2 linked regions of the Homo sapiens genome follow. The protein of the gene in region 2 interacts with the protein of the main gene of each other region in a biochemical or structural test. Each region holds a gene or a part of one and is shown on either strand. Other genes may lie near its edges. The genes, in order: PPM1A and CDC42BPA.

The links.
Region 1: of the proteins of CDC42BPA (region 2) and PPM1A, one has a biochemical effect on the other in vitro, tested with the Homo sapiens proteins (one study listed by BioGRID).

What each region holds. Positions count from the first base shown.
Region 1 is NC_000014.9:60,293,936-60,299,599, reverse strand, and holds the end of PPM1A (protein phosphatase 1A), read right to left. Parts: 3' UTR 513-5,664; downstream 1-512. UniProt on the Homo sapiens protein: Enzyme with a broad specificity. Negatively regulates TGF-beta signaling through dephosphorylating SMAD2 and SMAD3, resulting in their dissociation from SMAD4, nuclear export of the SMADs and termination of the TGF-beta-mediated signaling.
Region 2 is NC_000001.11:227,308,240-227,315,536, forward strand, and holds part of CDC42BPA (serine/threonine-protein kinase MRCK alpha), read right to left. Parts: intron 1-7,297. UniProt on the Homo sapiens protein: Serine/threonine-protein kinase which is an important downstream effector of CDC42 and plays a role in the regulation of cytoskeleton reorganization and cell migration. Regulates actin cytoskeletal reorganization via phosphorylation of PPP1R12C and MYL9/MLC2.

The sequences.
Region 1 (5,664 bases), on a different chromosome or scaffold from region 2:
TCAATTAAACCTGTTTAAGTCACTTTCAGACATGAATGAACACAGGATATAATATAGCCAATGATCAGAATTGGCAGAGGAAATAAACACCTCCTTTCTGCATCCTAGAAACACACACATTTAAGTGCCATTTTGAAGCAGGCACTATACCACAGATACCAGGTGAGGAAGTCCTTTCCCAGACCACTCCCAATTCCCAATTTCAACTCTTCAAGGGAGTAATCATCTACTAGAAGACAGACAAATGGGAATGTTCTTACCAAAGAGAAACTACTCTGGCTTCTTTATTTCTGGAATGTTTCATGACAATAACCATCAACTCAAACTTCTTGGCTTTCAGTAAACTTCCTAAAATTAGGAAGGAACAAATCTAGTTCAAATCCTATCAGATTTATTTCTCAGCTGAAAAAAACAATTCTTTTAAGGTCTTCCAACAGCTAATTTCAAATTCTCCACGTTTCTTGGAATAAAAATGCTGCTTGCAATATTAAACAATCATAAATACACACACATTATGTAATTGCCTGTTTATTTAGTGGCACCAGTTTTCCAAACTAGAAATTATTTCTACTTTTCATCTAACATACAATCTGCAACCATTCGCAGGCTGAATGCAATTTTTCAATGAACTTGAAAACAAACAGTACATTCTTAAAGTTAGAACTGAATTCACATATTTTCTTTGGACCAGGAAATAATACATAATACAAAATATACATTTATGGAATTTCTTTAAAAGTGTGGATCACATAAACTGCAAAGTGGGTGAGTTGCTACGGAGAATTTTGTTACACATTGTATTTAAGAAAAATATTTCTGCAATTATATTATTCTTAACATTTATAGAGTTTAAAAAATGAATATATAATGCAACATGCTTTTAACATGTACATGTCTCTCCACTCATAACATTTATACAAATTAAGTGATATAACTCATTTCAAGAGTGAAATCAATCACTATTGGGGCATATCACTACAAACAAGATATTTTCCTGCAGATATGCTATTTAGTCAAGGGATAACCAGGTAAGATAATGGTTTCTATGTTCCAGAAGTCCCACAAATGGGAATTAAATAAGCTGTCATTAAACATCTAATTTTGGCAACAAATGCAAAATTCTATACGTTTGTTACATTGTACTTATTATATTTTAGAAATCTCATTAACTGTGTGCATTGGTGGTGGTTGTCCGACTTGGATGTTATTTTAACATCCTGAATTAGTAAGTAAATAACCTAATTCCTTAGAATATGAAATGAATTGAACATTTAATGAATCCTAATACTAGAAAGCTCAAAATCTTAAAACCTGGAGATCTGACAGGTAAATAAATGTATTACTTGTTAATATAGTATATCTGCACTATGGAGGCCAAAAATGTTCCAGATACATTCCATTTCTGTTTTACCTCTTTTCTGTTGAATTTCTAAAGTGGCAAATCTTAGAGAAAGACATTAACCTCCAAAACTTCTGAATACTATGTTTTTTTTTCACCTTTTAATCACTTTCCCCACCCCAAATATAATATTTTTTAAAAAGTATATTTTAATGTCAGATTCTAGCCAGGTCCCCTATCTACCTCTAGAGTGAAACAATTCCTTAAAATAGACTCAAGTTATTTTCATGCCCTAGAAATATACTTTTGGGCTTTGCAGGAAAAGGGATGATGCCCTATTGTACTTTAGAATGGGCTCTTAACCAGGGGGCCCATGAACCACTACAATATTGTAAACTTTAGGGAGATATGTATGTTATATACGCATTTTCCTGGGTAAATAAGTCCCTAGGATTCATCAGTCTCAAAACGCCTGTGACCCCAAAAGGTTAAGAAGCATTGCTAAAATGATTTTGTGTCATTCACTGTACCTAATTAGGATATAACTAATTTTGTTCCGCAGCTACCCGATCTCTTACATCAATCTAACTTACTTTAGATAGTACCATACAAATGCACGTTACTAAATAGTCTTATACTGGATCAGGAGGACTATGTAAAAGAAAAAGAAAAACTCTAAACAACTTTTCTAAACATTTAGTTTAATGAGAAAACCATTAGTTGAAAACTGGGTTTTGGAGCAATGAAAAGAAATGAAGGGTTGGGTTTTCTAGTGAAGAAACATTGCATTAATTCTTCTCAGTTGTTTCTATGCTGAAGAATCAGTAACTTATTAATTTCCTTGCTGGAAAAATCAAATTATCTGAAGCAGCAAAGGTTCATTCTTGTTGGTTTATGTGACACAATAGTTCTTATAAATTTACAGCCACGTACAAGGAAGACTTTCCTATGGCTTTTAAAACAATTAAGAGTAATCCTTCCCTACCTATCCCACTGCCATTTCCCCATTCCTCCATCTCCCAAGTTTTCTCATTTTCAGCCCGGTTTAACACAGTATTAGCTGGCCTTGATGAAGTAACACACTAAGCTTTCTTGCTCAAGAAAATGGAATTGGCCTGTTTCTGTTTGAAAAAAAGAGAAAACACCAAGAGGAAAGTAGAGGAAACAAGGGCAATATTTCGTGCAGGATAAGGAAGAAAAAAAGTCCACTTTGTTGTTATATCAACTTAATCTTTTTTCTCCATCTCATAAAAATATAAGTTGTCAACTGTAATTTCAATACCATCTAAGTTTTTCTAATTAGCACTCCTACCTGCTAGTAATATAAATAGGAAAACAGTGAGAGCAGAAGCCACTATCTTAACATACAGAACAATCGAAAGGGAAAGAATCTGTGAACAAAATTAGAAAACGTTCATTTGACAATGAATTGGAACCAATGCCTCTCATCATTTCTATTGAGCATTTTGACTATCAGTAATAACAAACATTTAACTGAGACTTATTATTCTGATCAACAAAACAATACAGTATTATACATTTTGAAAATGTATTCTTAAATATTTCAAGCATATTCCAAGGAAATATACAATTTAAAACATATACAAACCAAAACACATGGCACATAATTGAAGGAAGTAAGAGCAAATTAGGCTTCTAAAATTTTGAACTCTAAAGAAGGCTTCCTAATGCCTAAAAGAAAAACTAGAAGACTAGATACTCAAAAAATGGTAATCTCACCAGCAGTTTCTGTGAGCAAAAGTATATAAAACTCTTTAAGGTCCCTTAGAAGAAAAACCTCAAATGAGAAACAATTATATACTAAGATATTTACACATCTTTTCTAATACCAAATCCTAATACAATACTGTACAAACAGCTGAGTTTGAACTAAAAGTATATACCATGAAATTCAAAATTAAAACAAAACGAAAAATGGAGAAAAAAAGCAGTACCCAATTTCATCAGTTCTTTCAGAAATCACAAGTTGAACTCCAAATGAGTTTGTCCAGTAAAGATGGGCAGTGAAATTATTTTAAAATATTAAAACACATAGTAATAATTTGGCTAAAATTTGATATTAACACTGGCAGTGTGTTACAAAAACACAGAGTTCTACTTAAGATAAATTTAGCTAGAGATATTTACATTTTTAAATGCCTTAAACTCAAACCCCACCTACATTTCCATGGCTGGATAATTTTCAGAAATCTACTACCTATTCCTCTGAGTTACTGCTGTCAGCAGGAAGAATAAAGGCCGTTGGATAAATGCAATCAAGGATACTGAATGGGCTTAAGCCTCTTCAGTCCAATTTTATTCTTATGCTAAGCAAAATTTTCTTCTGAATTACTCTTTAACTTTAGAGAGAAGAAAATAAACTGGAGAACAGTTTTCAGGTGAGTAAAGGAAGTATAAACAAGGTCTTTAGGGCAGGGGCCTGCCTTGATCAGCTAAGTACCTGGTAGATAGCAGGTGGGCAATAGATATATATATATATTTTTTGATGAGTGATCCAGTTATAATACTAACATACACTAGATTATAAATTGTCCAGATGTAAACTTGAAGCCAAGGATCTACTCATTTCTTTACAGTCCCAATGTGCTTAGCCTAGAACAGTGTTTTACCAATAATACTCGAAACATTTTGTAAAAAAACTGAGTTATTAGCTGGGTTAATATATAGTCCTATGAATGATCACTAAAAGTACTGCTGTAATTCAGATTACTTGAATTACATAACTAATTTATTACTTAATCCAAATTTCTTAATGTTGAGATTAGTATAAAAAATTAAGTGGCTAGAGCAGTTGCATTAAGTACTCTAGAAGCAAGTTAATGCACTATAAAGTAAAAATATGTTTGAGATACTTCCAAAGCTGAATTAAGTTATCACTTTGATTTTTTAAAGTATATGCTAATATTGAGAACTGCTTCTATTGTCTATAAAAGTATATTCCCAAGAAAGTGGAAATTAGGAGATTCTACCCTGTTAATGAAAGAAAGATCAGTGAAATTTTTTAATGTTAGGGTAAAACAGAGCCTGCTATACAAAATGTTATTTCCTATTCATAGCAGCAAATAAGACATTTAAATGATAAAAGTATATTTTGAGTACTATATTATCATCACATAAGAACTTTTTCCCTCCAAAGAACAGAACACATCAAACATTTTTGAGGCATTGCCCTGAGATGCTAATTAGCACAAAAAAAGGGGATGGGGGTGAAGAATTTAAGTGGTACAAGAATGAAGTGCACAATAGAGGTGCAAAAGTGCCTTTAAAAAGTATGGTTGGTTTCCCCCCACTATTACCTCCAGGAATCAGGAACACACACAGTCTGCTGTTATAATGTATACTTCCTTCCTGTATTTTTATAGTAAAAAAATTATTAGTATGGCAGTGCTGACTCATGTGGAAAAGATTTAGTCTTCTCACATCACTCAAATACGGTTCTCTCTCGTGTCCAAGCCTAATTTCAATACTAATAATTTTGACAGGAATATTTTAATTTTCTCTTGTTTAAAGACTCAAAAAAAAAAGGCTCTAAATATGCTGTTATGGTTTGAAATACAGCTTTCCATCACATACTCTACTTGTGACTTAAGTTTTGCATCTCAAAAGATTACACAGTCCAGTTCAAAGTTTTGCAATTTCTGGAACTAAAGTTGTCAGTCTACTTAAAATATTAAGGAACTGGTTTGTTATAATAGGGATTTAGCTTTCAGTACCAGTATGTCTGGTAATTAGTCTATACTAGAAGCACTGGTATTCATTAAATGCACATTTAGATGCTTGCAAAGCCATAACTTAGAACATTATCATACTTCGCACTCTACCACAGATTTAGACATTAAGTATTTATTGTAAGTATGGAATTGGTTCTGTAATTTCAACTGATATGAATTTCTAAATATAAATAGTACTTCAGTTTTTCCTCATTCATGCTGGAATAAGATATAAATTAAATACAATTAAGTTACATTTAATCACCTCACAAAATAAGAGGGATAATGAAAAGATTTTGCTGGTATTTAACTACTTAAATCTGAGACATTTCACATTACTTTCCCCACTACTCCCCTAACTTTACATTAATTTTAAGGCTATATATACAAATATGTATATTTCCAAGTTAGGGAAAAAACAAATATAACAAAATGGACTATACTGGTTTTTATACACAAAATTTTGATTTTGTATTCAATGTTGTATTTTAGTCTTACATTTCAACAGTTTTCTAGTGGGAATCTGCCTACTGAATGATTACATGGTGATAAATACAATATTCAACCTAAAGAGACAAAAATACAGAAGGGCAC
Region 2 (7,297 bases):
TCATGCCTAAAATCCCAGCACTTTGGGAGACCTAGCCCGGTGGATTGCCTGAGTTCAGGAGTTCAAGATGAACCTGGGCAACATGGTGAAACCTTGTGTCTACTAAAATACAAGAAAAAAATTAGCCAGGCATGGCAGCGTGCACCTGTAGTCCCAGCTCCTTGGGAGGCTGAGGCAGAAGAATTGCCTGACCTCGGGAGGTAGAGGCTGCAGTGAGCTAAGATCACGCCACTGCACTCCAGCCTGGGCAACACAGTGAGACTGTATCTCAAAAAAAAAAAAAAAAAAACAGAATGGGAAGCAAGCTGACAAAATACAACCATAAATCACCAGAAAAGGAAGAATCCTAAACCAACTTTTAACTTTTTAGAAAAATAAACTATTAGTCTTATGTCCATTTTTCATAAAGAGACATAGGGAGGTTAAATAACTAAATCACCCAGTTAATAATCAAAGCAGTCAGTCTTAATCCAAAACCCCTTGCTCTTTTCCAGTATATTGGTTTAGAACAGAAACATTTCAGGTTAGGTGTTCTACTTGTAGATATTCACCATGGAAACTCTAAGGAAACTGGATTAAGTGTTATCACTATGAATAGACCAAATTAAACAGAAGGTGTTTTTGTCTTTGATTAAGCCTACAGTGACGTTTAAGCAATCTGAAATAAAACTGAAAGTTAACACATGATTGCACATGACTGAAATAATTCACAATCTTTTCAAAAGATTGTTTTCATCCATATAAGTAGTACTTTGCAGTATAATTAGATCAGGAGTGGGAAGAATGGCACTGGTGAGGAAGAGTTAAAGAGAAAAATAAATCTAAATCAGAAAAAAGAAAAAAGGCCAGGTGCGGCTGCTCACATCTGTAATCCCAGCACTTTGGGGAGGCCAAGGTCAGAGAATTGCTTGAGGCTAGGAGTTCAAGACCAGCGTGGACAACATAGTGAGACCCTATCTCTACCAAAAAAAAAAAAAAAAAAATAAGCAAGAAAACTAATTTTATTCCCCTATATGCTGTCTGTCTTTAAACAATGAAACTAGATTGTCCTCTATGATTATTATCTGGCCTCCCAAAAACTCTGAACAAAAGTTAATAGTAACCACAGCTTTAATTGTTCACACAATGCCAAAATAGCACCAATTATGTTTTCTCCTTAATAAAAGTATATATTTTCTAGTTTCCTTAACAGTATATATAAATAGTTGCTGGCACTAGAAACACAGCGCTTCATGGATGTAATAAATAGTAGTAAAGTTCCCACACTAGTCCAAAAGTCTGAAACCAATGGCCTAGCCAAAATGTGTTACACTGCAAAAAACAATACTTAACACTGTAACAGGATTTTAAAACTATGAGTCCATGATATTTTCCTCTTAAAAATCACAAAGTAATGAATGTAATCTCTTCAGATAGACAATAGTTTTGCAACATCTACAGTAATGAAAGCTGTAAAAAATAAAGTGACAATTTCTGTATTTAATGTAAATGCCTACACATAAAGAAAAGTAAGCTTAATTAGAGCAGGAAAAGGTCATAATTAAGAGATCTCTCAGTAATTTCAAGGACTTTAGGGGTTGACAGCAGTGGTTCATTATGATGTCAAATTTCACTCTACTTTTTAGGGTGCTTTTCTTAGATGTAATTTTACCAACAGCATCACTCATGTTATTTCACCATGATTAAATTTATCTTTCAGTGCACATGACTTTCACACAGAAAATGAAGTTCACAGCCACTAAGTAAAATATAACCTATTCAGATTTGGATTCTCTCTCCAATCCACACGATATCCCAAATTTCTCTCAAAATTTCTTTCTAACCCTGCTACTCAGGAAGTTACAAGGAAAACCATGACCTTATACTGGAAGAACATTTCCCAAAGCGTATTCTGTGAAACACTGGTTGCCAGCCATCCTCCAGACGCTCTGAAAAAAAGCCTATTCCATAGTCAGATAAACTTCATAAATTCTAGGATAATCTGCTGTATTTTTAACATTAAATGTTGTCTAAAATCTTTTCCCAAACTGATTTATTCATATAAACCTTTCCCCTTGCTCAAGCATCTATTAAATATCCCATGGATTTCCAGAACACACTTTGAAACTAGGGAGGGAGGTTAGAGTGAAGAGGCCCTAATCCCAAAAGAGAAGCAAACAGTTCCATGAGGAAGAGTAAAGGCAAACAGTGGGATTGGAAAGGGGGAGCCAGGTCTTTGTGCCCCGTTAACATGAAAGCTAAAGTGCTGCTCTCATACAGTGATAGATAAAGAAACACTAGCCAATAGAAGATTAGCCATTCCCTACGTACTGATTAGAAAAAGAGATGGCAGTCATAGGAAGGAAGTGTGTAGAAGCTAGCTAGAAAGAATAATCCTGGAGTTCTACTCACCATTAATGGAGAAGAAAAGGAAGTCCCCCAGATTTGGAAAGGAGTTTTTTTTTTTGTTTTTTGTTTTTTTTTTTGAGACAGAGTCTTGCTCTGTCGCCCAGACTGGAGTGCAGTGGCGCGATCTCGGCTCACTGCAAGCTCTGACTCCTGGGTTCACGCCATTCTCCCACCTCAGCCTCCTGAGTAGCTGGGACTACAGGCACCCGTCACCGCGCCCGGCTAATTTTTTTTTTTGAATTTTTAGTAGAGACGCGGTTTCACCATGTTAGCCAGGATGGTCTCAATCTCCTGACCTCGTGATCCGCCCACCTCGGCCTCCCAAAGTGCTGGGATTACAGGCGTAAACCACCGCACCCGGCCAAGGAGTTTTTATATACAACAAAAAACTTGTGTCTGGGATAATCCATACTTACAGTGTGGGTAATTCAAAAACAAAAATCACACGAAGTGCAGATGATCACACTTGCAATTCCAACACTTTGGAAGCCCAAGGCAGGCGGATCACTTGAGGGCAGGAGTTTGAGACCAGTCAGGACAACATAATGAGACCCCCCATCTCCACACACACAAAAATTTTTTAATTAGCTGGGCATGGTGGCACATGCTTGTAGCTCCAGCTACTTGGTAAGCTGAGACAGGAGGATCCTGAGCCCAGGAGGTTGAGGCTGTAGTGAGCCATGATGGTCTCTCATAACAATTATTATGCAAAGACTTCTTGACTCATCAAGACAGGGCAAAAGGAGCTAAGCAATTCTTGGTCCTCGATACCTAAAACTGGCAGTTTCCTGAGCAACAAATGATGAGAAAAAATCTGATAGAACTAGCAAATCCTCACCTACATCTACCCTAGAGTTCAGCTGAAGTGATGAGAAGCTAAAACCAAGAAACTACTACCTTTGTTTATAGGTCATATGGTTATCACTCAAACTCAAAAACGTATATACCTCTGACAATCAATCAAAGTCAATGCCCATTAGCCCAAACTCAGAAACGGAAAAAAACAAAGGAAGAGACAATAAACCATTGAAAGAAATACAAGAGTGAAATTAACTCCCCTGCCCATTAAGTTCTTTTAAATTAAAAATACCCAATCATAAAAAAAAAAAATACCCTATCATTCAACAAGTCAGACTGAAGTAGCAACTCAGGAACACAGTATTCATTCTCATTCTCTGTCTCCCTCTCCCTACTCATTCTCTTTTTCTCCCTCCCCCATGTCTCCTCTTCCCATCTATTTCCAAGTCTGTATCTTGCCCATACCTTACACTCTTTCCCTTCACTAGGTTCTTGAGTAAGTCCCTAATCTATCGTGTGTCCTTTTTGAAAAAATGAACTGTCTATATTTTCACTGTTTAACAGTCAACATAGCATAGCTGCACCTACACTGAAGTATTTCAAACTATTTTTATCTCAACCTATAGTAAGAAATATGGGAATAAGGACTACAGGAAAACACAATGTTTTGCACAACAATACTTATTCCTTCTATATTTGATGTACTTTATATTTTCTATTCTAGTCTTTAATTTTTTTTAAATGCTGGTTAGACTTAGTAATTGGTTTTAAAACCTATCACAACCAGCAGGAGAAAAACAATGAGCTACATACGTAACATACTGTCAATAAATGTACCAAATGAGAAAAAGGTCAGAGAATAAATTTTTGACTGCCATAAAAGAGTGGTACAATAAAATATTTATTTGAGCTAAATTATTTTATCCTAAAATAGCCTGAGCTTACTGTGTAATAGTATTCAAGTCCTAGGAATTATGGGACATTTCATAAAATTTCCAACATACTGCACTATTTGTTTTTATATACTGCTATACTAAGGTATGCCTTACATTTCCATATAAAATAAATATATGTCTAAAATTCCTAAAGTGTTAATCCTGACATCCTGTTTTCACTCATGAAGCAATACATTCCTTTTTTAAAAAAGCTGGGTGTGGTGGTGCATGCCTGTAATCCCAGCTCTTTAAGAGGCTGAGGTGGGAGGATCTCTTGAGCCCAGGAGTTCAAGACCAGCCTAGGTAACACAGTAAGACCCTTGACATGGTTTGGATTTGTGCCGTCACCCAAATCTCATGTCAAACTGTAATCCCAGTGTTGGAGGAGGGACCTGGCGGGAGGTGACTGGATCATGGGGGCAGACTTCCCCTTTGTGTTGTGATAGTGAGTGAGTTCTCACAAGATCTGGTTGTTTAAAAGCGTGTAGCATCTCCCCCTTCTCTCTCTTCCTCCCACTCCAGCCATGCAGGACGGGGTCGGCTTCTCCTTTGCCTTTTACCATGATTGCAAGTTTCCTGAGGCCTCCCCTGCATGCCTCCTTGTAGCCTGCGGAACTGTGAGCCAATCAAACCTCTTTTCTCTATAAATTACTCAGTCTTAGGTAGTTCTTTATAGCAATGCGAGAACAGACTAACAAAACCCTGTCTCTAAAATAAAGCAATACATAAAATAAAAAGAGTAATGTTCCTAAAAACAATTATAATACAACCCTGTCTCTAAAATAAATCAATACATAATATAAAAGGGTGATGTTCCTAAAAACAAAAAAATTACTAATGAACATCAAGTATTTCAAAGACTTTAGGGGTTAACAGCACTAGTTCATTATACCTAAGTTCACTCTACTTTATAGGGAATTTTTCCTAGATGTAATTTTATCAACAGCATCACTCCTATGCTATTCCATCATGAATGCCAGTAACCAGTATCATCTGGCAACTACCTCTAAGTGTAATTTCTCTTAAAAAGAGAGAGACAAACAGAAATGTTATAATAATAGCCATTACATCTATTGAACACACTTCTACCATGTGCCAGCATTGTACTAGATAAAATAATTGTAATTACTCATTATCATTCCTAGAATAGAATATTAGGTGGCTAGTATAAAGGAAACAAGTACCCAACCAATATTGCTGATTATTCTAGTTGAGAACTTAAATAAAATAAATGTAATCATCTGTATTAAGTGAACATTTTGATAATTCGGACTGATTAATTAATAAATTCTACTCAGGAAAAGCTAACAATGAGGAACAGCATATGTGAAGAACAAAAGTGTCCTAGAAAAGATACATATCCATCAACACCTCACTTAATTAACACTCGTGTCATAAAAAAAAAGTGAACAGCTTTAAAACTATACTAATAAAAAGAAAAGCTTAAAGCATAGTACCTGCTGATATGCTCTAGGTACAAATTTATTAAACAGACTATTTTCTATGTATATACAAAATCTGAATAAGCTATAAAATTAGTTATTTAGTGATAATTTCTGTATGTTACAAAGTCCAAAATTCAAAAAGCATCAAAATAGTTATCCATGTACAGACAGCCTTGCATATTTATTTTGTATTAATATTATCTTACATTTATTAAGTAAATTGGTAAATAATTCCCCAAAATTCCAATTTCCCATTTCAAAGTAGGGGGTGGCCGATTTAACGAATGATATACTAATTCAGTCATTACTAGCAAATTAGTTTACAATGTGGAAGTTATTTTTACTTCTACAACTCCACTGTAATTTATTCTAGAGTTATGCTGACATCGACTATTACTGTATACACAAACATACAAACCATAATCATTTCAACAACTTAAAACTAAGCAGACAAAAAACATAGTCTTTCAAATACTATTTACTATAAATGAAAAATAATACATCTTATTAAATTTAAATGTGATCTATAGTCTTAAGGCACTTTTATTCCCTTGCTCTAGTGATCATTGGCTTAATCCTCTCTTTCTCTTTCCACTTATTTCCTCCCTCAAGCCATCAGCACCAAAAGCAAGAAAGGCTGTCAAAGAAAAACAACATATCTGACTTTGAATTGTCAGTTTTCTTATTGTTTTGATACTGCTATGAACAAAACATTAACTGTACCAATATAAAAATAAAATGGACTAAAACTAGGAATAAAATGAAATTGATAGAAATGAAGCTGAATACAGCCGGTAAGAATCTTGGCTGACTGTACTTTAAGAGTAATCTATCATCAGCATAAAGATAAGTAGCATCTAGCTGACACTTTCATTAATATAAATAACGAACACAAATATGTAACAACTTGTGTTATTAATACTGCGTTCCTGTTGCAAATAGTCTTTTAAAGATTTAAATAAAAGACAATATTTTTTCAATTATTAAAAATTAAACTTAAAATTACACCATTTAAGGCAAATCTAAATTACCAAATTTAACCCCAACAACAATCCCTGTAAATTTCCACCAGAGTCCCAAAAAATAATGTTTAGAACACTGAACTGAGGTCAATTCACAATTTGGAAATATTCTTAGTCTTAACTGATTTTCACATATTGTTAAGTAATTAAAATAAAATAGGACATTTCCCCAAAATGCAGTTATCAATTCATATGAAGAACATCTGATCTATTTCAATTCTTAAATAGACTGGCACTCTTAACCTAAATTCTCAAATAACTTAAAGACAGCAAATACCACTACTCACTACGCAACTCCTGACAGCCTTTTCCATTCTTAACTTTCTTTTTACTCTTTATCCAGACTTCCATACTAATAAAAATAATACTCAGCCAAATACTTATTTGATATTTGGCTTATATAAAAATATACATAAATGAGGTGTTCTTATACATATATAAGAAACAACATCCAAGAAAACATATTTAATGGAAAATATATATAAATTATTCTGATAATACAGCGAAATATCTCATAACATAAAACTACTTACCTAAACTCTAATAATCAGAAGGCAATGGAGGATACAGTTTTCTCTTTATCATAAATCATTTAAAATTATATTTACTACTGGTACATAGAGTTCTCCCATAGCTTCGCAGATAGGAAAGAATACTAAATGACAAAAATCACAGACTAGAGTGTCATTAAGGAACCATAACTTAAGAA